Regions from separate parts of the Homo sapiens genome. Here region 1 is linked to region 2. The links come from fine-mapping of genetic effects on gene expression. A gene starts in region 2. The other region holds a variant in brackets. All regions are shown on one strand. Distances are from middle to middle. Region 1 overlaps KIAA1671. Region 2 holds the start of KIAA1671.

What was found.
Region 1: its variant is fine-mapped to the expression of KIAA1671 in CD4 T cells (CEDAR, PIP 0.95).

What each region holds. Positions count from the first base shown.
Region 1 is chr22:25,024,519-25,036,876 of GRCh38, forward strand. It overlaps KIAA1671, which reads left to right. Exons shown (of 13, transcript NM_001145206.2): 2 at 1,115-1,266; 3 at 3,427-5,022; 4 at 8,091-8,178. The coding sequence starts at 3,482. Among named protein-coding and RNA genes, the nearest start is that of KIAA1671, 78 kb to the left of the region's middle. RefSeq lists an enhancer at 1,430-2,629. The variant A/G (reference allele first, on the strand shown) is at 5,562.
Region 2 is chr22:24,945,960-24,958,317 of GRCh38, forward strand. It overlaps KIAA1671, which reads left to right and starts at 6,757. Exons shown (of 13, transcript NM_001145206.2): 1 at 6,757-6,813. It overlaps LHFPL7 (LHFPL tetraspan subfamily member 7), which reads right to left and starts at 735. Exons shown (of 4, transcript NM_001388199.1): 1 at 613-735. RefSeq lists a silencer at 6,574-6,823.

The DNA.
Region 1 (12,358 bases), 79 kb after region 2:
AGCACTTCACAGCTTTTTGATTCTGTCATTCAGTAGCCACAGCCACAGCTAGAGTAACTCATCTTATGTCCCAGATTGCTTAGAGTCATTTGGCATGAGACTCATGGTATCTGGACTTATTTAGCATCTTAGAGAGTGGGCAGCAGGGGCAGAAGAATATTTCTTCATTCATTTACTTATTAACTCAGCAATGATTTATTTCTCTATTCAGTAATCATGTATCTGGTGCTTTTATGTGCCAGGCTGCTGTGCTAGCCACTAGGGATTTGGGGTGTCCTCTGGCGGGGCTTACCATTGAATGGGAGAGGCTGATGTGAAGGATGATGTCGTATTAAATGTAACAGTGTAGCTATGCTAAGTCCTGCCAAGCCTCCGAGTGTATGTGGTGCTCTGTGAACAGGTAGGAGGGGGTTGTACCGGGTTGAAGGGAGACAGAGATGTGTGAACTGTGGTCTGTGTCTGTGTGTGAGCAAGATGGTTGTCCCAGAGAACAGGCATAGCATGTGCAAAGGCCCTGAGGAGGCATTTGGAGGGCTTCAAAGAGGTACAATGTCCAAATACCGCTAATGTAGCTACCAAGTGAAGCACATCACTTGGTAGCAGCTACCAAGTGAAGCACATCACTTGGTAGCAGCTACCAAGTGAGTCAGCACCTCGAATGCTCAGTAGCTACCTCCTCTAAGTCAAGTGAGTTATGCAGGACCACCAGTTCCAATTCTAGGCAATCAGTCCTATTTGCCCCCACATCCTGCATTTAAAAAGTGACATTTGTTACCCAGTTGTAATTGCTTGTGTGTGTATGTGTGTTTCTTACAGAAGACTGTGAGTTGCATGGTTGCAGGGGATGTTTCATGCTCATCTTTGTACACACCGTAGGTGCTTAATAAATGTATCAGAGAACAGGGAAGATTTTTATTGAGCACGTACTGTGGGCTCAGCACTATTTATGCACACGTACATATAAGGCTACAAAATCGAAAAGCCAAAAGGAGCATACGTTTTACAAGCTGGAGTAGATGCCAGCGGATGCATTTGGAGCTTGAAAGCTTTTGTGCCGTCTGTTCCCATACTGCCAGAACTCCGGAACTGAGGCTGTCATCCTGTGTCTCCTTAGACCTGCTGAAACTCAGCCTGCTGGGACGAGTCTTCTTTCCCCCTTCTTGTTTCTGCCATGGAAGTGTGTGGACAGCCCCATTCATGATGACATGTGACACTACTGGCTTTTCCCGGCAGTCACACCCCCTGACCCAGGGCCTGCCAGCTTGGGTAAGTGGGGCCCATGCTTGACCCAAGCTTGAGGGCTGGAGTGTCCAAGGGCATGGAGAGTGCCTGTGAGTTCTGCCAGAGAATTTTCTCTCTGTCCTTTGAATCCTGTCATTGTTCTGTGTCTCATGTCCTGGCTATTACATATGTATCCTCAATCAGGGTTTCCAGAGGTCACAGCTGCTCTCCCAAAAGGCCAATGGCCCTGATTCTGGGTGGGATTCTGGAGCCTTAGAACTCTGGTTGGGATCTTTGTGTATGGAAATTCTCCAATTCTCAGATTCTTCATATCTGTCCCTCCATTCTACCTCTAACCGTGTCTAGACAGTGTTCTCCAGTTTGGGGAGATGGAATCTGTTAGCACCATCGAGCGTGTAAGGAAGAGAAAATATCAAAATCTGTCTGCCTTTCTTTCCTGGAGGCTGCTGAGTGAGTCAGAGCCGGGGGAGCAGTGTGGGGCCCCAAGGAAGGGAAGTGGAGAGGCTTGTGTTTAACTAAAATACCTTCTACTTTTTTAGTCCATCTAGGTGGGGGCTGGCTGGGGGCAGTTTCACAGGGAAGAAAACACTGGCATGAAGAGAGCCTGGGGGATCGAGAACAGCAACTTACCTGGCACTTTTTAAGACCAGAAAGGAATAAAAAATAATTTTTAAAAAGACAGAGCTGAGGCTGGGTGTGGTGGCTCAAGCCTGTAATCTCAGCACTTTGGGAGGCTGAGGTGGGCGGATCCCCTGAGGTCAGGAGTTCGAGACCAGCCTGGCCAACATGGAGAAACCCCACCTCTACTAAAACCACAAAATTACCTGGGCGTGGTGGCACATGCCTGTAATCCCAGCTACTCCGGAAGCTGAGGCAGGAGAATGGCTTGAACCTGGGAGGCAGAAGTTGCTGTGAGCCAAGGTCGCGCCATTGCACTCCAGCCTGGGCAGCAAGAGTGAAACTTGGTCTCAAAAAAAAAAAAAGACAGAGCTAAGTGGGTGGTGGACTTGAGGTTAGGTTTCAGCTGGGTGATCGTAGGCAAGTCTGGCGACCTCTCTGGGCCCTTTCCCTTCATCTCCATGAGGGAGATAACGATCATTCCTTCATTCTTGACTTTTGGAGTTGCTGGAGGGTTAATGAGAGAGGAGGTCCCCTGCTTTGCGAAAACAGATCTCATAGCAGGGTGAACAAGAGGCTTATGCCCCAAGCTACTACAAAATGGGGTCTCCTAATTGTACCCACTAAATAGGGTTGTGAGGAGGATGAGATGTATAAAACACAAGAAGCATGTGGCATAGCTCGAGATCTCACTCATGGGAAGACCTCACTGTTGGGCGTTTCTCTTTCTATTAAGAGTATGAAGGCAGTCAGCATAATATGCGTGTTCAACAGAAAAGAACCACAAAGCAAACAAATAATGAAAGCAGGTTGAGTGAGAAAAATGAGAATGGCTTCTTTTTATGGCATCTGGAAGGGTGGGGGAGGGGAAAGAAAAGGGACAAAGGGATGATTGGGTGGGGTTGGTGCCTAGGGCATGGGTTCCAAGGTCACTAACCAGCTTTGTGCTCCCAGGCACTCCTGAGCTGCATTGCTGTGTGACCTGCAGCAGGTTACTTGCCTTCTCTGTGCTAGATGCTTAGCACACACTTGTGATTAGGATCACCTGGGATGTGGGCAGGCTCTGCAGTGGGAAAACAGGGTAACAGGAGTGAGGGAATGTGAGGACGCTCCCACTGAGGCCTATTCAGGGAGGAGCATGTGTGGTGTGAATTTGGTGTCAAACCTGGTTTTAAGTCCTGACTTCGCCTCTTGCTTCCTGGGTGACTCCAGTTACTTGGCCTCTCTGAGCTGGTTTCCTTATCTGTGTAGCAGAGATCACTGCTTTTTGCCATTAAGTGCTGGCCTCTAGATTAGCTGTCAGGGGAAAGTCCTCCAGAGTGTTGATGCCTTTTCTACACCCTTGGAGCTGGAACGAACTTCAGGGATGGGCGTTTAGTCCACTCCCCTCGTCCAGAGCTCAGAGACGGGGAGAGGCAGGCCCAAGCCTGCCGGGTGAGGTCAGCAGAGGGCTGTCGTATGGAATCTGGGGCTCAGGACTCTGTCCCATTTCTCTAAACCATTCTGCTTCAACCCAGACACTGACTGTTTTCCAAATTTACTTGTTTGTTTGTTTTGTTTGTTTAGCAATTGCTTCTCCATTCTTGAAGTTCCTAACCCCCATGAATCCACAACCATAACCATGGCCACGCGGGTCGAGGTGGGCTCCATAACGCCCTTGACGGCCGTGCCAGGCCTGGGTGAGATGGGCAAGGAGGAGACCCTGACGAGGACCTACTTCCTCCAGGCCGGCGAAGCCTCTGGGGCTCCCCCAGCCCGGATCTTGGAAGCGAAGAGCCCCCTGCGGAGCCCGGCCCGGTTACTCCCTCTGCCAAGGCTCGCCCCCAAACCCTTCTCGAAGGAGCAGGACGTGAAATCTCCTGTCCCGTCTCTGCGGCCCAGTTCGACTGGACCTTCCCCCTCTGGGGGGCTCTCTGAGGAGCCAGCAGCAAAGGATCTGGACAACAGGATGCCCGGCTTGGTGGGGCAGGAGGTGGGCAGTGGGGAGGGCCCGAGGACGAGCTCGCCCCTCTTCAACAAGGCTGTGTTCCTGCGGCCCAGCTCCAGCACCATGATTCTCTTCGAAACCACCAAAAGCGGCCCCGCTCTGGGGAAGGCGGTTAGTGAGGGGGCGGAGGAGGCCAAGCTAGGTGTGTCCGGCTCCCGGCCTGAGGTGGCTGCCAAGCCCGCCCTGCCCACCCAGAAGCCTGCGGGGACCCTTCCCCGGTCAGCTCCCCTGTCTCAGGACACAAAACCACCTGTACCCCAAGAGGAGGCAGGCCAAGACCATCCTCCCTCAAAGGCCAGCAGTGTGGAGGACACGGCACGCCCCCTTGTGGAGCCCAGGCCTCGCCTGAAGAGAAGGCCCGTGTCTGCCATTTTCACGGAGTCCATTCAGCCTCAGAAGCCAGGCCCCGGCGCAGCGGCCACAGTGGGCAAAGTGCCACCCACCCCTCCCGAGAAGACGTGGGTGAGGAAGCCCAGGCCCTTGTCCATGGACCTCACGGCCCGGTTTGAGAACAAAGAGGCCTTGCTGAGGAAGGTGGCCGATGAAGGAAGTGGACCCACAGCAGGGGATATGGCTGGGCTAGAGAGGCCCAGAGCAGCGTCCAAGCTGGACAGGGACTGTTTGGTCAAGGCGGAGGCTCCTCTTCATGATCCTGATTTGGACTTCCTGGAGGTGGCCAAGAAAATCCGTGAACGGAAGGAGAAGATGCTTTCGAAGCCGGAGATGGGCAGCCCCAGAGCCCTGGTGGGGGGCTCATCTGGGGTCACCCCCAGCAATGACCAGAGTCCCTGGGAAGAAAAGGCCAAGCTGGACCCAGAGCCAGAGAAGGCTGCTGAGTCCCCCTCACCCAGGCTGGGAAGGGGCCTAGAACTTGCTGAGGTTAAGAGCAGAGTGGCGGATGGGGAGGCCGCGGCAGGGGGAGAGTGGGCCTCCAGGAGGAGTGTCAGGAAGTGCATCAGCCTGTTTCGGGAGGACAGCACCTTGGCCTTGGCAGTGGGGTCTGAATCTCCCCTGGCCACCCCTGCGTCCCCATCGGCGGCACCAGAGCCGGAGAAAGGGGTTGTGAGCGTTCAGGAACGGATCAGAGGCTGGACTGCCGAGAGCTCAGAGGCTAAGCCCGAGGTCAGGAGGAGGACGTTCCAGGCTCGGCCGCTGTCGGCGGATTTGACCAAATTGTAAGTAGGCACATCCCACACCCCTCTCTCAGCCGCCCACCCACACACCCTGAGGAAGACGGAACCAGGCTCCATGCTGGGCACTTGTCACCCCCCCTCAGTTTACCCATAGCCCAAGAGGAGGTAGTGGCAGTGTCCATTTCTCAGATGAGAAAGGTGAGGTGCGGAGAGGCAGTGCAGCTCTCCTCTGGGTATGGCCAGCCGGGGGGCCCGGAGCCCAATTTTCATGGCTTTTCTCAGCTTCAGATGTAGTGTGTGAGTGAAGTGGGCGGTATGTGCCCATTTCATGGAGGCAGGGCAGAAGGGTGAAATACTGTGGGGAGGTGGGAGCTGGATGGCATTCCAGCTCAGCCTGTCTCCATAGCTAAGCCTTTCTTCCCTGAAGTCAGAGAGAGAACGCTTAAGATTGGGCCTAAGCCTTTATGAGTGGCCCAAAAAATAAACTCAGAGGAGTCAAGGTAACTTGGGCTAGTCAGTTGGTTAATACTGATATTCTACGTCATTTGGTTAATAATGATATTCTAAGTCAGTTCGTTAAT[A/G]CTGATACTCTTAAGTCAGTTGGTTAATAATGATACTCTAAGTCAGTTGGTTAATACCGATGTTGTCAATCAGTTGGTTAATACCGATGTTCTAAGTCAGCTGGTTAATACCGATGTTCTAAGTCATTTGGTTAATAATGATGTTCTAAGTCAGTTGGTTAATAATGATGTTCTAGGCCGGGCGCGGTGGCTCATGCCTGTAATCCCAGCACTTCGGGAGGCCGAGGCGGGTGGATCACAAGGTCAGGAGTTTGAGACCAGCCTGGCCAACATGGTAAAACTCTGTCTCTACTAAAAATACAAAAATTAGCCAGGCGTGGTGGCAGGCGCCTGTAGTCCCAGCTACTCAGGAGGCTGAGGCAGGAGAATCGCTTGAACTCGGGAGGCAGAGGTTGCAGTGAGCCGAGATCACACCACTCCACTCCAGCCTGGACAACAGAGCAAGACTCCGTCTCAAAAAAAAAACACCAAAAAACAAAAACAAAAAAGATATTCTTAGTCATTTGGTTAATACTGATGTTCTAAGTCAGTTGGTTAATACTGATGTTCTAAGTTAGTTAATAATGATATTCTAAGTCAGATGGCTAATAATGATATTCTAAGTCGGTTGGTTAATAATGATATTCTAAACTTGGCCCACTTCCGACATCTCTTCTTTGTTTTCCCACAAGTGGCCACAACAGAGAGATGCCACTCGGCATGATCGACTGGCTCTTAATGGCATGCATGCCACTGACATACTTTGTCCAGGGTGGAGCTTGCAAAGGCAGGATCTCTGGGCAGACTGCCCTCCCGGCCCTGGGAACCAGGACAGCCAGCCAAGCCAAAGCTAGACCACTGGCCCTCAGTACTTTAGAATAACCGGAAAAAATACCAGTGCCTGGGCCCCACCCCTAGAGATTCCGATTCACTTGGTCTGGGGAGGGTGTTCTATTTTGGTAGTTTTTATTTTATTTTTTATTTTTATTTATTTATTTATTTTTGTGACCCAGGCTGGAGTGCAGTGTTGCAATCTCGGCCCACTGCAACCTCCACCTCCCGGGTTCAAGTGATTCTCCTGCCTCAGCCTCCGCAGTAGCTGGGATTACAGGCACGCGCCACCACACCCAGCTAATTTTTTTTTTTTTTTTTTTTTTTGAGACGGAGTCTCGCTCTGCCGCTGAGGCCAGAGCAGTGGCACGATCTTGGCTCGCTGCAAGCTCCGCCTCCCAGGTTCACGCCATTCTCCTGCCTCAGCCTCCCAAGTAGCTGGGACTACAGGCGTCAGCCACCACGCCCAGCTAATTTTTTGCATTTTTAGTAGAGATGAGGTTTCACCGTGTTAGTCAGGATGGTCTCGATCTCCTGACCTCGTGATCCGCCCGCCTCAGCCTTCCAAAGTGCTGGGATTACAGGCGTGAGCCACCACGCCCGGCCTAATTTTTGTATTTTTAGTAGAGACGGGGTTTCACCATGTTAGTCAGGCTGTTCTCGAACTTCTGACCTCATGATCTGCCCGCCTCAGCCTCCCAAAGTGCTGGGATTACAGGCATGAGCCACGGCACCCGGCCTGTATTTTGGTAGTTTTTAAAAGCTTCCAAGTCGATCTTATGTGTAGCCGGGGCTGACAACCCCTGAATTAAGATATCAGAGAAGGACACCTATGCCACGGTCCTAATATGCTTCCTCTCACTATGTCATGGAAGAGCCTTGGAGAGGCCGTGTGATTATCCCCATCTGACAGGTGGGGAAACTGAGGCTCTGAGTTTAGACAGAACTCCTCTCAGCCTCACATATCCCAGGAGACAGACCCTGGGTTGCTGAGTATGGGTTAAGTTTAAGTGGTTTGATTTCTCTCCCTTTCCTTTTCTTCAGTCCCCAGCTTTGAACTAAACACGTGCTACATCTTCAGGTATTTACACCAGAATGCTCTCCAGAGATGGAAAGATTCTAGCTCCACACCCTCTTCCCTTTTTGAGGTGGGGAAAACGAGGCCCAAAGAGGGCCCTGGTGATCCAGAGAGGCAGAGACAGACCTGGGCCCCCACACATTCCCTGACAGCCCACTACCCTTCAGTCTGGGGGCTGCTCTGAGGTGGGGCTGCTGTTTTACCTGGCACTGCTAACAACAGCCATTCATTATCCCTCCTGGGGCATCTTCACTCTTCCCTAAACGCCCTCACGTAGCTATTAGGGCCTTGAGTAGCCTCTTATCTGCCCCATAAAAGGGATGGGGAGGTGTTAATTATCCCTGTTTTATAGATGAAGAAACAGAGGCTCAGGTGAGGTCACAAGCCTAAACCAAGCTCCCCCAGTGAAGAGGCAGTAGAGCTGGGACTAGCACCTGGGTGTCTTCCCCCAGCTGGGGCTCCTCCACCCCAGTAATGCTGTGTTTGAGGTAGGCTCTCCCCACTGGGCAGTTCTCCTTTTGGTAAGTGGAAAGGAAATGTCCTTTCTGAAGGTTACTTGGCCTGGCCTCCTGAGCTGGTGTGTGGGCTGGGGGGAATAACAGCTTCCAGCTCCATGAAGGTAACTCAGATCTCTGTACCAGGTTTTCAAGTTCAGCTTCCAGCAACGAAGTCAAATATGAGAAGAGTGCTGAGCTGAGCGGCGAGTTTCCTAAGGAACCGAGAGAAAAGGTAAGGAGTGGCTGTGTAGCACGTCTCTCATTAACCAGCGGGCAGTTATGGCTGCTGGAGAAAGAGCCTCCATGATCTTCTAGGCCCCAGGAAGACTCAGAAACATGTCATGCACACGATAAAACATTTTTTCTTCTAATGTTGGGACTTTGAAGTCCCTTTTGGCATGAAGAGTTGTGATTCCCTACTCCCAGGTGTTAAATGCTGTTTACAAATGTTATCAGGCATTTTTTTTCTTCGCAAAGAGGCAGAGGGGCATGGCTTTCTTATATAGGAGTGCCTGCTTTGTTAAAATACTAAAATTTAGGTTTAAGATGTTAATAGAAACTCCTTCAAGGTCCTTCATAGTGGTTCTTATTGCCTTCCCCTTACTTACCACCTAGCCATAGAAGGAAGAAGTAGGTGGCTGGGCACAGTGGCTCACATTTGTAATCCCAGCACTTTGGGAGGCTGAGGTGGAGGGAGGATTGCTTGAGCCCAAGAGTTTGAGACCAGCCTGGGCAACATAGTGAGACTCTTATCTCTAAAAGAAAAAAAAAATTTTTTTTAATTAGCCAGATGTGGTTGTGCATGCCTATAGTTCTAGTTAAGGCTGAGGCAGGAGGATTGCTTGAGCTCAGGACTTTGAGGCTGCAGTGAGCCATGATCATGCCACTGCACTCTAGCCTGGGCGACAGAGTGAGACTTGTCTCTAAAAGAATAAAAATGTAAATTAAAACAAAAAGAAGTAGGTTACCAGCAATTAAATTGCTTGAAAAGTATTTTTATTTCATCTTTTTAATAAGAGAAAACTCATAAAATTGTCTCCTAGCGAAAACCGGTTTGTGGTTGATGCTTTCTGCAGAGTCTTAGTTGTTTTTTTGGTTGGTTTGTTTTCGTTTTTTTTTTTTTTTTTTTTTTTTGATGGAGTCTCCCTCTGTCGCTCAGGCTGGAGTGCAGTGATGTGATCTCGGCTCGCTGCAAGCTCCGCCTCCCGGGTTCAAGCAATTCTCCTGCCTCAGCCTCCCAAGTAGCTGGGACTACAGGTGCCCGCCACCATGCCCGGCTTATTTCTTTTGTATTTTTAGTAGAGTTGGGGTTTCACCATGTTAGCCAGGATGGTCTCGATCTCCTGACCTCGTGATCTGCCCGCTTCGGCCTCCCAAAGTGCTGAGATTACAGGTGTGAGCCACCGTGCCTGGCCCAGTTTTTTTAAAAACAGCTTTGAGATACAATTGACATACAGGAAAGAGCACAGATTTAACACATTCAACTTGGTGAGTTTCCTATGTGTGTACAACCTGTGAAACCACCATCACAGTCAGAATAGCGAACATCTCCATCCCAGGCAAAAGGTTCCTCATGCCACTTTGTTTTTTTTTTTTTTTGGAAACGGAGTTTTGCTTGTTGCCCAGGCTAGAGTGCAGTGGTGCGATCTTGGCTCACAGCAACATCCACCTCCCAGGTTCAAGTGATTCTCCTGCCTCAGCCTCCCGAGTAGCTTGGATTACAGGCACCCACTACCACGCCTGGCTAATTTTTGCATTTTTAGTAGAGACGGGGTTTCGCTGTGTTGGCCAGGCTGGTCTTGCACTCCTGACCTCAAGTGATCCACCCACCTCGGCCTCCAAAAGTGCTGGGGTTACAAGTGTGAGCCACCACACCCGGCCACGACGTTGTAATCTCTCCCTTCCCCTGCTCTTCCCAGCCCATCACAGGTCTGCTTTCTGTCCGTGTAGATTAGTTTGCATTTTCTAGACTTTAGTATAAATGGAATCAGTCCTCTTTTTTTTTTTGCCCTTGCTTGTTCACTCAGAGTAATTATGTTGAGATCATTCATGGTGTAGCATGTATCAGTAGTTCATTCCTTTCTGTTGCTGACTAGTATTCTATTTGTGTGAGTAGACCACAATTCGTTTATCCATTCACCTTTTGATGGACAATTGGGTTGTTATCTGTTTGGGGCAATTACCAGTGAAGCTGCTGTGAACATTTGTGGACAAGGCTTTGTAAGAGCTTCTATTTCTTTTCTTTTCTTTTTCTTTTTTAATTTTTTAATTTATTATTATTTTTCATTTTTGAGATGGAGTCTCGCTCTGTTGCCCAGGCTGGAGTGCAATGGCGCGATCTCGGCTCACTGCAAGCTCCGCCTCCTGGGTTCACACCATTCTCCTGCCTCAGCCTCCTGAGTAGCTGGGACTACAGAGGCCCGCCACCACGCCTGGCTAATTTTTTGTATTTTTAGTAGAGATGGGGTTTCACCGTGTTAGCCAGGATGGTCTCCATCTCCTGACCTTGTGAGCCACCTGCCTCGGCCTCCCAAAGTGCTGGGACTACAGGCATAAGCCACTGCGCCTGGCCTTTTTTTTTTTTTTTTTTTCTAATTTTTGAGACAGAGTCTTACTCTGTTGCCTGGGATAGTACAGTCACGTGATCTCAGCCCACTGCAACCTCTGCCTCCTGGGTTCAAGTAATTCTCCTGCCTCAGCCTCCTGAGTAGCTGGGGACTACAGGCACGTGCCTCTATGCCCACTTAATTTTTTGTATTTTTAGTAGAGATGGGGTTTCACCATGTTGGCCAGGCCAGTCTTGAACTCCTGACCTCAGGTGATCTGCCTGCCTTGGCCTCCCAAAATGCTGGGATTATAGGTGTGAGCCACCGCGTCCGGCCAGGACTTCTATTTTCTTTTCTCTTGGGTAAACATCTAGGAGTAGAATGGCTGGATCATATGGTAGATGCATGTTTTATGTTTTAAGAAACTTCCGTGGAGTTTTAAAAATAACACCAGTGCTTGGTTTCAAGCTTGTACCCATCTCAGTACATCACCAACAAAAGTGGGCTGGCTTTGAATGGCAATACCCACCACCACTCTTGGAGGCAGCGGTTTGCCCTGCAAGTTTTATTGTTGCATTTTCTGAATCATTTCTTTGAAAATGGTTAGGAGTGATACCATTTAAGTAATTAAAGCTCCTTATATTTGTATTAAAATGCTGTAGTGACAGCAGCAGCAAGGGCAAAAAGGCTGTGTGTGGCGAGAGTGGCAAAATGTTGATTGTCATTAAATTGGGGGGATGGGTTGGGCAAGTTCATTATTTTCTCTGTAATTTTGTGTATGTTTAAAACTTTAAAGAAAGGAATAGTTAAGAAATAAACCCTTGCTTTACATGTGATGAGATTTTATCTCTATAAGTAGACTTTATGTGTGTGTGTATGTGGGTGTGTTTATTGTAGTAAAATACACATAACAGGCTGGATGTGGTGGCTCATGCCTATAATCCCAGAACTTTAGGAGGCCAAGGTGGGAAGATTGCTTGAGGCCAGGAGTTTGAGGCTGCAGTGAGCTCTGATTATACCACTGCACTCCAACCTGGGCAACAGAGCGAGATGCTGTCTTTATTTTATTTATTTATTTATTTTTTTAGAGATGGAATTTCGCTCTTGTTGCCCAGGCTGGAGTGCAATGGCACAATCTCAGCTCACTGCAACCTCTGCCTCCTGGGTTCAAGCGATTCTCCTGCCTCAGCCTCCTGAGTAGCTGGGATTACAGGCATGCGCCACCACACCTGGCTAATTTTGTGTTTTTAGTAGAGACAGGGTTTCTCCATGTTGGTCAGGCTGGTCTCGAACTCCCGACCTCAGGTGATCCACCCGCCTCGGCCTCCCAAAGTGCTGAGATTGCAGGCATGAGCTACCGTACCTGGCTGAAATCCTGCCTTTAAAAAGAAAAAAAGTACACATAACATAAAATATATCATTTTAACTATTTTTAAAGAAAAATAATGAATTTGTGAAATTTACAAAATTTACAAAGTTTCAAAAATTCGGTCTTTCTAATATATATATAAATAATACAAAGAGAGTTCTGAAAGGCTCTTCAAGGATCATAACCCATTGGTAATAGCTGTTATCCAAGAAAAGGGACTGGTATTTGAACAAGGGAACAAAAATGATTTGAACTTTGGCCGGGCGTGGTGGCTCACACCTGTAATCCCAGCACTTCGGGAAGCCAAGGTGGGTGGTTCACCTGAGGTTGGGAGTTCAACACCAGCCTGACCAACATGGAGAAACCCCATCTGTACTAAAAATACAAAAAAAAAATTAGCCAGGCGTGGTGGTGCATGCCTGTAATCCCAGCCACTCGGGAGGCTGAGGCAGGAGAATCACTTGAATCTGGGAGGCAGAGATTGCGGTGAGCCGAGA
Region 2 (12,358 bases):
AGGAAGGTCTGTGGGACTTAACCCTTTGATGCATTCCTTTGAAGATATGATTTAAAACTATGGATGTTGGCCAGGTGTGGTGGCTCACACCTATAATCCCAGCACTTTGCAAGGCCAAGGCGGGAGGATCACGTGAGGTCAGGAGTTCGAGACCAGCCTGGCCAATATGGCAAAACCCTGTCTCTACTAAAAATACAAAACTTAGCTGGGCATGGTGGCGGGTGCCTGTAATCCCAGCTATTCGGGAGGCTGAGGCAAGAGAATCACTTGAACCCGGAAGGCGGAGGTTGCAGTGAGCCGAGATCACACCACTGCACTCCAGCCTGGGCGACAGAGCAAGACTGTCTCAAAAAAAGAAAAACAAAAAAACAAAACCCCAGAAAACAAAACTATGGATGTTTCCACGTGCACTCTCACATAAGCAAGCATGCACACATGAGCGCACATGCACCCACCCACCCACCCACACACACACACACACACAATTGTATGTCATTTCAGAGGCTCATGGGCCCCCTGAAGCCTGTAACAGCCCCTGAACGTGCTTTGTGCTATCCCAGTTTCCTTCCCTCCTCACTCCTCACCTCAGGTCACTTGTCCCTCCAGACTCACCACACTTTAGGTCAAGACCCTCCAGCGTGGCCACCTCTGCTCAGGCTCCGGCTTTGGATCCACGTCTGTGACCTTATACAATTCTCCTCTCCTTTGAAGGAATAATTTAGCTTGTAGAACAATGCAAGGGCATGCTTGATGAACTGGTCTGAGGGTGTGTCTGTGTGTGTGTGTGTGGTTTTTCCTTCCCACTTCCTTAAATAAAAGCTTTCACTCCAGGCTGCTGGGTGGGCTGAGCAAAGAGGGGAAAGCCATCTCCAGGTGGGGACAAGGGGAGAGTATAGTGTTTTCTGGGTAGGGCAAGGCACCAATAGGGATTAACTGATCTATGATTAAACGCCAGGTGTAGGAAACCACAGATAGAATCTCAGGAGGAGAAATGGGATTGGGAGTTTAGAAGTGGCTGCCACTGTGTTCTCTACCTTTCTGCCCTCATAATTCCAGCCCAGGCAACTGATATGCATATTTCTGTGTATTTCTCATAGGATCTTCCCTGTGAGCTGTGGACGTCTCAAAGTCAGGCACTGTGTCTTAAATATCTTTATCCTTACCACAAAACTTGGCACAGAGTAGGTGCTGGTATTCTTTTTTTTTTTTTTTTGAGACAGAGTCTCACTGTGTCGCCCAGGCTGGAGTGCAGTGGTGCGATCTCGGCTCACTGCAAGCTCTGTCTCCTGGGTTCACGCCATTCTCCTGCCTCAGCCTCCTGAGTAGCTGTGACTACAGGCTCCTGCCACCATGCCCAGCTAATTTTTTGTATTTTTTTTTTTTTTTTTTTTTTTAGTAGAGACAGGGTTTCACCTTGTTGGCCAAGATGATCTCGATCTCCTGACCTTGTGATCTGCCCACCTCGGCCTCCCAAAGTGGTGGGATTACAAGCGTGAGCCACCGCGCCTGGCCTGGTATTCTTTTGCTATAAGTGATGGAAGCACCACTCAAATAGACATGAGAAATGTATTGGTTCACGTAACTGAAAATTCTCTGGGATGGGCTTCAGGCATAGTGGGATCCAGGTAAATAAGCAATGTCTTCAGAACCCCTCTCTCTCTCCAGCTCTCAGTTCTGTTTTCTGCTCAGTTGGCTTCACTCTCTAGGTGGATTCCCTCTAACAATATTGCCCTTTGGTGGCTCCAGGCTGACATTCCGAGACTCAGCAACCCCAGAGAAAAGAAAGCTTCTCTTTGCACACTATTGCAGCAAGTGCTGTGATTAACACTCAATGGACAAACTTGGGTCCCATGCCTACCACGAATCAATCACTGTGGCCAGGCAAATGGGATGCTCTGATTGGCCAGACCTACATCCTGTGTCCTAGGGTTGGGGGTTAAGGTTTGGAAAGTGAGGATCAAGTAAGGGTGTCGCGAGGCTTACCGCCCTTGAAACGACATGGACTGAGTGTAGCGGGTGGGATTCTTCCCTGGAGGAAAACGGAGATGCTGTTGGCAGAGGGGAGATGGCTGCTAGGAAGGTGAGAACAAAAGACATCGTCTCGGTGCACAGGAAATGCGAGCTTTTCCCTGTAGATTAACGAATGAGCACCTGGCAGTTGGTATTGCCAGAAGCAGGAGGTTCCCAGCCAGTTAGAGGCAGAAAATCTCAGTGAAGCCGTGTCTCAGGCTTCATTCAAGTCCCAGCTCTGCCGCCTCAGTCAGTGTGACCTGAGTTGGGGCATCACTGCCTCCTTGGCCTCAGTTTCTCTACCTGTAAAATGAGGGCGTCTGGAGTGGTGGCTGCCTGGGTTTTTTCCCCAGTCACTCATTCAATCATTCATATATTCATTTTTCCCCTTTCAATCAATATGTGTTGAAGGGCACTGGAGTTAGCCTAAACTGGATTTGGATTTCAGTTGTGATGTTTACTCGCTGTATCAGGCTTGACTGATGCACCTTCTCAGGTGTGCTCAGCTGCGTCCTTCCCAGCCAGCCAGCAGCTCTGGACAAGATCAAGCCTCCTCTTGCTTCCGCCTGCAGGCGGCTTGGGTCAGTTGCTGCATCTACTTAGCCACCTAGGCCTGCATCTCCCGCTGTCATTCAAGCAGACCTGACCTGCTTCAAGGGAGGGAGCCCTGGACCCTCCTCTTCTAGGCTCAGGTGAAGCCCTGTGTATGGAATTGGCTTCCCTTGGGGCTGTCTGGAGGCACAGATAACACAGTTGGGCCCAACAGTGACTAATCGTGGACAGAGGATGGGAGGCGCCAGCCGATGAAGTCCTCGCGCTTCCTTCATTCCTTCCATGGTCTGTTTCACGTGGCTTCTGTAGCCAGCCTAGTAAGGCATGTCTTATATTTGCTCTCCCTCCTCCCTTGCCTTGAAGTCCCCTTCCCTTCACCCTTACTGAGCTGGAATTTTATCCCTAATAAAGCATTAGTACATAAAATTTTCCTTGGGCTCTGTTTTCCAGGGAGCCAGGCTGAAATACTAGCTGTGTGACCTTGGGCAACTTACTTAACCTCTCTGAGCTTCAGATCCTTCATCTGTAAAAGGTAGATAATAATAGAGCATCTCAGCGGGGCACAGTGGCTCATACTTGTAACCCTAGCACTTTGGGAGATTGATGTGGGTGAATCGCTTGAACAAGGAGTTCAAAACCAGCCTGGGCAACATGGCAAAATCCCATCTCTACAAAAACACAAAAATTAGCCAAGCATGGTAGCGCATGCCTGTAGTCCCAGCTGCTCGGGAGCCTGAGGCGGGAGGATGGCTTGAGCCCAGGAGGGCGAGGCTGTGTAGTGAGCCAAGATTGTGCTACTGCACTCCAGCCTGGACGACAGAGCGGGACTGTCTCGAAAAAAATTAAGTAATAATAATAATAGAGCACGTCTTATAGGTTGTTGTGGAGTTTAATGAGATAGCACAGGCAAAATATTTGGCTGAATAAATGATAGCCTTCATTAGTATCATTACCGTGAACCAAACGCTGGATTCCAGCATGTGAAAACATTTATGCAACATTGAACTTCATGAATATTTATTGGGTGACAACTCTGTTTCAGGTACTATGCTAGTCTCTTCCCACAAGGACCTCACAGCCTAGAAAGTGAGTGAAAAGTAATTGGGCAATTACACTACAGTGTGATCAGAACTTTAATGAGTGCGGGCACCAGCCCCAGATTCTGCAACATCTAATCAGTTTTGGTGGTTGGGGATGGCTTCTTAGAGGAACTGATGTAGAAGCTAAGATCTGAGGGACATTTAGTTGTTAACTAGATGATGGGGAGGCAGAGGGCAAAGACTTCCTGGTGGGGGTAATGGCATGGGCATAGGACTAGTGTTGAGGGAAAACATTTCAAAGAACATACCGGCTCTCACACTCAACATGCAGATAAATTTTAGGAAAAACAAAATGGATAAATATGCACCAACGAAAATGCATGAACATGGTCTTTGCAAGGGGTGTGTGGGGTGTAGAGCTATACTGTCCAATATGGTAGCCAGGGCCACGTGTGGATTTTAAAATTTATACTAATTAAAATTAAATAAAATGTAAAACTTAGTTCCTCAGTCTCCCTGACCTCATTTTAAGTGCTCAATAGTCATCTGTGGCTAATGTTGGACAGTGCAGATATAGAACATCTCCATCGTTGCAGAAAGTTCTATTGGACAGAGCTGACACAGGCTAATCAGGACCTTCTGGAGGAGGGGACAAAAGACTGCGAAGAAAGGGTTCTGGGAAAATCCCTGGGAAGCACTGTGCTCTATTCTTAGAAAAAGAAAAGCCAGGGCTGGGAGTGGTGAGGTTGGGGGAGGGAGGGGTGTTGCCTCCGGAAACTGTACTACCTGACACCTCTTTGGTCAGGGTCTACCTCTGGGTATGTGCGAGCTGGCATCTCTCACCTAGGCGGGAAGACACAGGAATGCAGGGGGAACCAGCTAAGGTGGGGGCTGACCAGGAAGTCCTGCCCCTTCTGGGTCCAGGTTCAGGAGGACTCTGGGAGTTGTAGTTCAGCACCTCTGGAATCCCCTTAAAGCTTGACAGGGATAGAAGAGCTGACACCCGGTCTGGGCTGGGCATCTCTTGGGGCAGAGAGTAGGGTTGATGGTCAGGGCTGGGGACGTGTCTGGGTTTGAGTCTCCATGGGGGGTGGCAGGAGGAGGACTATCTTGTCCCCTCCCATCCTTATGTTCTGGAATGGAGAGGCGATGCCAAGGTGGAAGCCTGCATTGGCTGGGGAGCTGAGAAACATGGAACATTCCATTGAACAGAACCCCCAGCCTACGCATTCTGGTTCATGGAGATTTGCCCAGGAGAGACAGGAAGTTCCCATAAGGTTAGGGAGGAGGGGCAGCAGATGGCATGTCATCAGCTGTTGGTCATTCATGCACTCAGCATACATTCTTTGAGCACCTATTGTGTGCCAAGCCCTGTTCTAGGCACTGGGAATCGGAGGTGAAAGACAGACAGAAGTCCCTTCCTCCAGGAGGTCTAGAGAGAAGAGCAGACAATCAACGATTTTCCTTTGCTGGTATAACATACACGTCATGTAAAGGCCTGACTTACGTGGATTTTGAAGGATTTTAAGTTTCAACCCAGCCGTTCCTGGTCTCCTACTCACAGACTTCTCTCTGGAAGTGGTAGTTGTCTGTAAAAGCAACTGGGTTTGATCCTTTTGATGACTGTACTCAAGATACCCAGATGATAAGGAGAATGTCTTGAGACATGAGACCTCATGGGACCTCTGCCCCCCAATTCCTGGGTTCCAGCACTGTACACAAGTCAGTTGGGGGTTCTCGGGCTGCTGTTTGGTAAACAGGGTTTACCCTGCCTGGGTCTGATGGTGATGATCAGACCTTCAAAAGGGTTGCAGTGCAAACGGTGTGGAGAACAGGAGCTACCCTTGTTTCTTACACACACCCAACAATTTAAGAGCAAAATGAGGCAAGAAGTCTCCCCACCAATCCTCCTGAAGCCACACAATGTGATGTCTTTTTCTTTTTTTTTTTTTTGAGATGGAGTCTTGCTCTGTCGTCCAGGCTGGAGTGCAGTGGCGCGCTCTTGGCTCACTGCAATCTCCACCTCCCGGGTTCAAGCCATTCTCCTGCCTTAGCCTCCCGAGTAGCTGGGATCACAGGCATCCGCCACCACGCCCAGCTAATTTTTGTAATTTTTAGTAGTGACGAGGTTTCACCACGTTGGCCAGGCTGGTCTCAAACTCATGACCTCAGGTGATCCACCCGCCTCGGCCTCCCAAAATGCTGGGATTACAAGCCACCGTGCGCAGCCTGTGATGTCCTTTTCTTTCTCTTTTTTTATTGAGGTCTATCTTGCTTATAATAAAGGCACATTGATTTTAGGTCCTCCAGTTATTCATGCTCTGTACATTTCCCATAGGAGCACATGTCACAGATTCAATTTGATATACTCGTGAAATTATTTGTTTGAATATCTGTAAGCTGCACAACAGCCTGGATTTTGCCAGCTGCCCACCACTGGGTTCTCCAGCACCCAGCATGCAATAGGTGCTTAATAAAGATCTGCTGAATGAAATGAGTAACGGATAACAGAACAGGTATTTTCTCTTTCAGAGGCGACTTCCTACGATTCTCTCAACTTGTCCACAAGTTCCTGTACCCATTACCCCACAACTCACACCCACAACATAATGGCAGGAGGATGCGCACACAGTAGGCGCTCCAGCGAACTCTCAGGTGCAGTGCCCTTGCTTGGCGCGAGGAGGCGCCAGCACCGCGCACAGACCTTGCCCGCCCCCGGGCCGGCACCAGCAGCCCAGGCAAGTCAGTGGGCCCACATTTATGGAGCGCCTCCTGAAATCCTGGGTTGCATTAGGCTCTCGGGGTCGCCGGCTGGGCAGCGGGTCGGTGCCGGTGGCGGGGGATCCTGGCTGGTGACTGGGGAACATCCAGGGAACGCGGGAGGGTACCCGGAGCAAAGTTCCCAATTGGACAGAGCGGGGTCGGGCCTCGAGGGGCGGGAGCGCTTCCGGCAGGGGTGTCCAAGCGAGTCGTGACCTCTGACCCGCCGGAGAGGTCCCAGGCCCAGGCGCCACTGCGGACTCGGGTCCTGCCTGCTCTGCTCCCCTCCGCGCAGGCGCGGCCGGCGGCAGTTCCCATGGTGACGGGGGCGCGTCCCCGCTCGAGGCCCCGCCCCCAGCAGGCTAGGCTGCGCGGGGCTGCGGGCTCCCAGGGCAGGTGCCGCGGGCTGCGGGCAGGTGGCGGCGCGGCGCGGGCTGGCGGTGGCTCCACGGTAGGTTGCGCAGCGGCTGCGGGCAGTGGGGGCCGGCTGGCCGCCTCCTGTCCCCGGCCGACGAGGTAGCTGGGGGTGACGGCGGCTGGCGAGGGCCGCCAAGTTTCTGCCCGGCCGAGGCCCCGGGAGAAAAGTTGGCAAAGTTGGCCGGGGAAGAGGCGGGGAGCCGGAGGATTTCCCCAGACTCCGGGTCTGCAGGGAGGGAGGATCCCGGTTTGGGAGCCGGGGAATCCGTCTCCCGAGACTTGAGAGTGGATCCCGCGGGAAGATCCCGCACAGGGCAACCAATGGATCACGTGCCACCTGGTTGGCGACTTGGGAGTCGATCCCTGGAGGGGATCGGGCGCTGGAGGCCTGGGGTCCCACTGGATCCCCAGTCAGGGGTGACGGCGAAGGGTGATTCGAGACTGGGAGCGAGAGGATCAATCTCCTCCCATGCCAGCCTGAGCCTTGGGAATGGATTCAGAGAGATCCCGTGGCTAGGAGCTGAGGGATCGCTGGAGATCTGGGTTACTCAGCCTGGAGCTGCTAGGGTCTGGACATTTGTGCGGGTTGGAGGCCCCGGAGGTGGAAGTGGGAAGCAAGGGCGGCGAGCGAGACGGAACCCTGGTCGAGGGGAGCCCGGAGGACAGCGCGGTGGTTCGGGGGGCGTGAGAGGGGCGGCGCGCGGGGCCCCTCGGACGCGGAGGCTCCGGACACGTCCTCTCGGCCTGGCCTGCGCCCCCCCTCCGCTCGTCTTCCCAGGGCGGAGGCGCCCTGATGGGATTAAGCCTCAGTCCCCCTGTTACCAGGCAGGCCCGCGTGGTCCCCGCCCCGATGGCGGCGCGGCCCACCCGGGCTCACGGGTGGGGCCCTCGGGATGGGAAGCGGCTCGTTGACCCCCACCCGAGCCTGACCTTTTCACACCCTGCTGGCACAAACTCGCCTGGGAGTGGGGACGCCGCGCCTTAAAACCCTGCTGTTTGTCCAGTCCCGGAGCAGGCGTGTGACCTCCACCGCGCGACGCCTAGGTGGCTAGGGCTTCCTGCCTGCCGGGACTGAACTTTCTCTAGCCAGGAGCAGCCATTATCTTTTGGAAGGGAAAGGACTGTACCTGTTGCACAAAGAAAAACACTTTCTTTGCACCTTTTTTGTGACCTTGGGCAAAACACTTAACCTATCTGAATCCAGATGGGGACCCTCTGGGCAAAATGGGCTTGGCCTAGGATGGATCGGAATGAAGGGTATGAAACAGGTAGGGGCTCTATAAGTATCAGTGCCTCCCTCAGTCTATGGCCTCTCCTTTCCCGTGCCCCATCCCCTGTGCTTGCCTTACAGTATCTAAAGATTCCAGAAACCCTACTTGCTATCTTTTGAAACCGCAGGATTAGAGAGCTATTTAGCTTAACCTTTCTTCCAAATGGGTTAATTGCCCCTCTGATCCCCCCTTGCAGAGAGAAGCTCTGAGGTTTGGCTAATGAGTAACCAAGACATTTGGACAAAGCTTCTCCCTTGGTCTGGCTTTCCCTCTGCTAATCCATCAAGGTTCCTGGACAAACGTGTGCACCCCCAGACTCTGGCGCCTCCTTCCTTCCTGTTGCAGCCAGGGACAGTTCCCGAGGAATTTGTACAGACACAAGCCCAGATCTTGGTGGTTCTGGCAGGGGGATCCTTTTTAAAGGATTTGCATGCTTGACAAGGGTGCAATTACCCAAGAGAAGTGCAGAGTTTCAATGCAGTGTCTGGACATACATTTCAGCTGGGCACATGAACTGGCTGGCTCCATCAACCAGCGTGTATTGAGCACCTATGTCAGGAGCACTGTAGAAATGGTGTGGCCTAGGGCAACTCAGGATTTGTCCTCTTGGAGTTACTTTCCAGCTATGGAGCAGTCGGCTTGCCCTGCAGTCTAGTACTGATTCTTGATGTTGGGGATACAGTTCTCACCCTAGGTTCAGAGGCTGGAAGCTGCCCCTACCCCCACTGGAGGTCCTAGGGGCTGCTTTTTTTCGTTTGTTTTGTTTTGTTTTGTTTTATTTTGTTTTTTGAGATGGAGTCTCGCTCTGCAGCCCAGGCTAGAGTGCAATGGCGCGATCTCGGCTCACTGCGACCTCTGCCTCCCGGGTTCAAGCAATTCTCCGGCCTCAGCCTCCAGAGTGGCTGGGATTACAGATGCCCGCCACTCTGCCCGGCTAATTTTTGTATTTTTAGTAGAGATAGGGTTTCACCATGTTGGCCAGGCTGATCCCAAACTCCTAACCTTAGGTGATCCTCCTGCCTCCGCCTCCCAAAGTGCTAGGATTACAGGCATGAGCCACTGCGCCTGGCCGGGGCTGTTTTTTATTGAAGGCTGACCTTGGCAGGAGAATGAAGGAGCCAGTTGTCTGGCTCTGAGCATTTCTCCTCACCAGGCTACATCTCTGACCAACTCAGAAACAGAGCCTCACAGGGATATTTTATATGTGCATTCATTCATTTATTTATCATTTGTTCCTTCAACAAATATTTCAAGACACTGTGTCAAAGATGAGGCTAGCAGCCACATCCTTAAGGGGATACTTTATGCCCTGAAAGTCTTTGTGAACATATGCATTTGTCTGGAAGGGGAGAACTATGATCATAGGAGGAGGGGCTGATGCCTTTGGCTATAAGGAGGGATGCGGGTCAGAGAGTTTAGTTTTCTCGACAGCCAGTGGGAAGAGGTTGGTGTTATGGGCTGCAGAAATGGAATAGCTTGTGCAGAAGCCTGGAGGTAGGTGAGTGCCTAGGGTGTTGACTGGGGCCAGGCCAGCCATGCTTAGTGGTTTGGACTTTATTCCTGGAGCGTGGGGCGCTGTGGATCACAGTGGAAGGGTCTCTGCAGGTGAGGGGCAGGGTCAGATGTGTGTTTTGGGAAGCTTGCCCTGGCTGGTGTGGGGAGGCTGGATGATCGGAGGGTCATGCCAGGAGGCTGGGGGCCAGTAAGCAGGCTGCTAGAAAAATCCAGGTGAGAGGCCAGGCGCGGTGGCTCACGCCTGTAATCCCAGCACTTTGGGAGGCCAAGGCAGGACGATCACGAGGTCAGGAGATCGAGACCATCCTGGCTAACATGGTGAAACCCCATCTCTACTAAAAATACAAAAAAATTAGCCAGGCATGGGGCAGGTGCCTGTTCTCCTGGCTACTTGGGAGGCTGAGGCAGGAGAATGGCATGAACCGGGGAGGCGGAGCTTGCAGTGAAGCAAGATCATGCCACTGCACTCCAGCCTGGGCGACAGAGTGAGACTCCGTCTCAAAAAAAAAAAAAAAAAAGAAAAGAAAAAAGAAAAATCCTGGTGAGAGACCGCGGTGCGCGGTGGACTGGACGTAGAGACCAATGGTGTTGGAGGGGTGTTCACTGACAACTTTGACATTGATCAGTGTTACATTTAGAGAGCCACTCACTTTGAAGATCCCTTCCTCAAGGTGGGTGTAACAGTCTACCTGGGGTAAGGAAACCCCTCAGAGGGAGTGGTATCAGTACTGAATTCAGTTTAGCAAACCTGCTTTAGAACCCTGTGCCTGTTCAGGGGTAGGTATAAAACATGCCAGTCCTCAAGGACTTCCTGTGGGGAGACATGGGGCACATTATTCCCATTTCACTGATGCAGGCCTCTGTGGCATTGTGAGGCGTTTGCCAGGCAGCAGTGGCAAAGCAGGAATTTGAACTCCCTTCCAACTTGCAACTAGTGAATATTTGGGTTCAGGTTAAGCCGTAGAGAAGCAACAGAGGAAGGTGGGTTTCAGTTGGGTGTGGAAGGGATAAATTGAAGGAGCCTTCCCGGAGGAGGCAGATAGAAGGGAGGGAGCCAGCCAGCCGGGCGTGGTGGCTCACGCCTGTAATCCCAGCACTTTGAGAGGCCGAGGCGGATGGATCACGAGATCAGGAGATCGAGACCATCCTGGCTAACACGGTGAAACCCCGTGTCTACTAAAAATACGAAAACAAAAAATTAGCCGGGCGTGGTGGCGGGTGCCTGTAGTCCCAGCTACCTGGGAGGCTGAGGCAGGAGAATGGCGTGAACTGGCGAGGCGGAGCTTACAGTGAGCCGAGATAGTGCCACTGCACTCCAGCCTGGGCGAGAGAGCGAGACTCTGTCTCAAAAAAAAAAAAAAAAAGAAGGGAGGGAGGGAATCAGCCAGAGATAGTCCAGGGCAAACCCTGGCCCTGCCTGCTCCTGGCTGTGGCCTTGGGCATGGTTATGGTTTTGAGACTCGACTTCCCTATCTGTAAAAAGGGCTCATGATAGGATACTCCCATTCTCAAAAGGTTCTTATGTGAGTTTACTGAAGCAGTGTATGGACAGTGCTAGGCCCCGTGTCTATGCTCTGTAAGGGGTGGTATGATTATTATCACTATAGCCTGTCATCAGGATAAGTTCCAGGTGGGTGGTGCTTTGCTCAACCTGGTGTGTGCCTGTGTGTGTTGGGGGGAGAGAGGGAGTGACCCACAGGTGATACTTGAGTCTTAAAGGATGAGTAGGAGGGAGGGCTGGGACATTCCAGGCAGAAGCAACAGCACTGGCAAAGGCATAGATCGCCTGGAGAACTGCATGCCAACTGATATACCCAGAATTCAGGATGTGCTGAATGAATAAAAGTTAGACCATGGGCAGCAAAAATTCCTTTTATACCCCAGACACTCCCTGAATTTCTAAACCTGAAGGCTTTGGCAGGTTTGGGACAGAGAGGAGGGCAGGAGCATCCCTGTCCAGGAGTTCACTCTCCTTCTTCCACTCACCCATCCAGATTATAGGAGTGTGAACCTAGATAAGCCATGTCCCCCCGGGACCTCAGTTTCTTCCTCTGTAAAATGGGAGGACTGGGGAGAATGTAGGTAAAGCACATAGTGCATCAGAGCTGCGCTGTTATGCCAGAATCTGGGCTAAGCTCTTTTGTTCCTTTTTTTTTTTTTTTTTTTTTTTGAGACGGAGTTTTGCTCTTATTGCCCATGCTGGAGTGCAATGGCAGGATCTCGGCTTACTGCAGCCTCCACCTCCTGGGTTCAAGTGATTCTCCTATCTCAGCCTCCCGAGTAGCTGGGATTACAGGCATGTGCCACCACGCCTGGCTAATTTTGTTATTTTTATTAGAGACAGGGTTTCTCCATGTTGGTCAGGCTGGTCTCGAACTCTCGACCTCATGTGATCCACCCACCTCGGCCTCCCAAAGTGCTGGGATTACAGGCACCCGGCCTTTTTTTTTTTTTTTTTTTTTAATATTTTACAACAAACCCAGGTGGTGCCTGTTTTTGAGACCCTCGACTTTACAGTTCATGAAACTGAGGCTTCAAGAGGTTATTGATGTGCTGCGAGGTCACGCAGCGGGAAAGTGGAAGAGCTGGGATTTGAACCCAAAGCTGTCTGCCTCAAAGCCATGCCCTTCCCACTTGCATGGCTCCCAACACAAGGAGGGGTGCTTCTGCCTAGTCTCACTACTCAAACTGCTGCCATTTAAGAAGAAGCTAAGGCCAAGCACAGTGGCTCCTGTCTGTAATCCCAGCGCTTTGGGAGGCTGAGATGGGAGTATTGCTTGAGCCCAGGAGTTT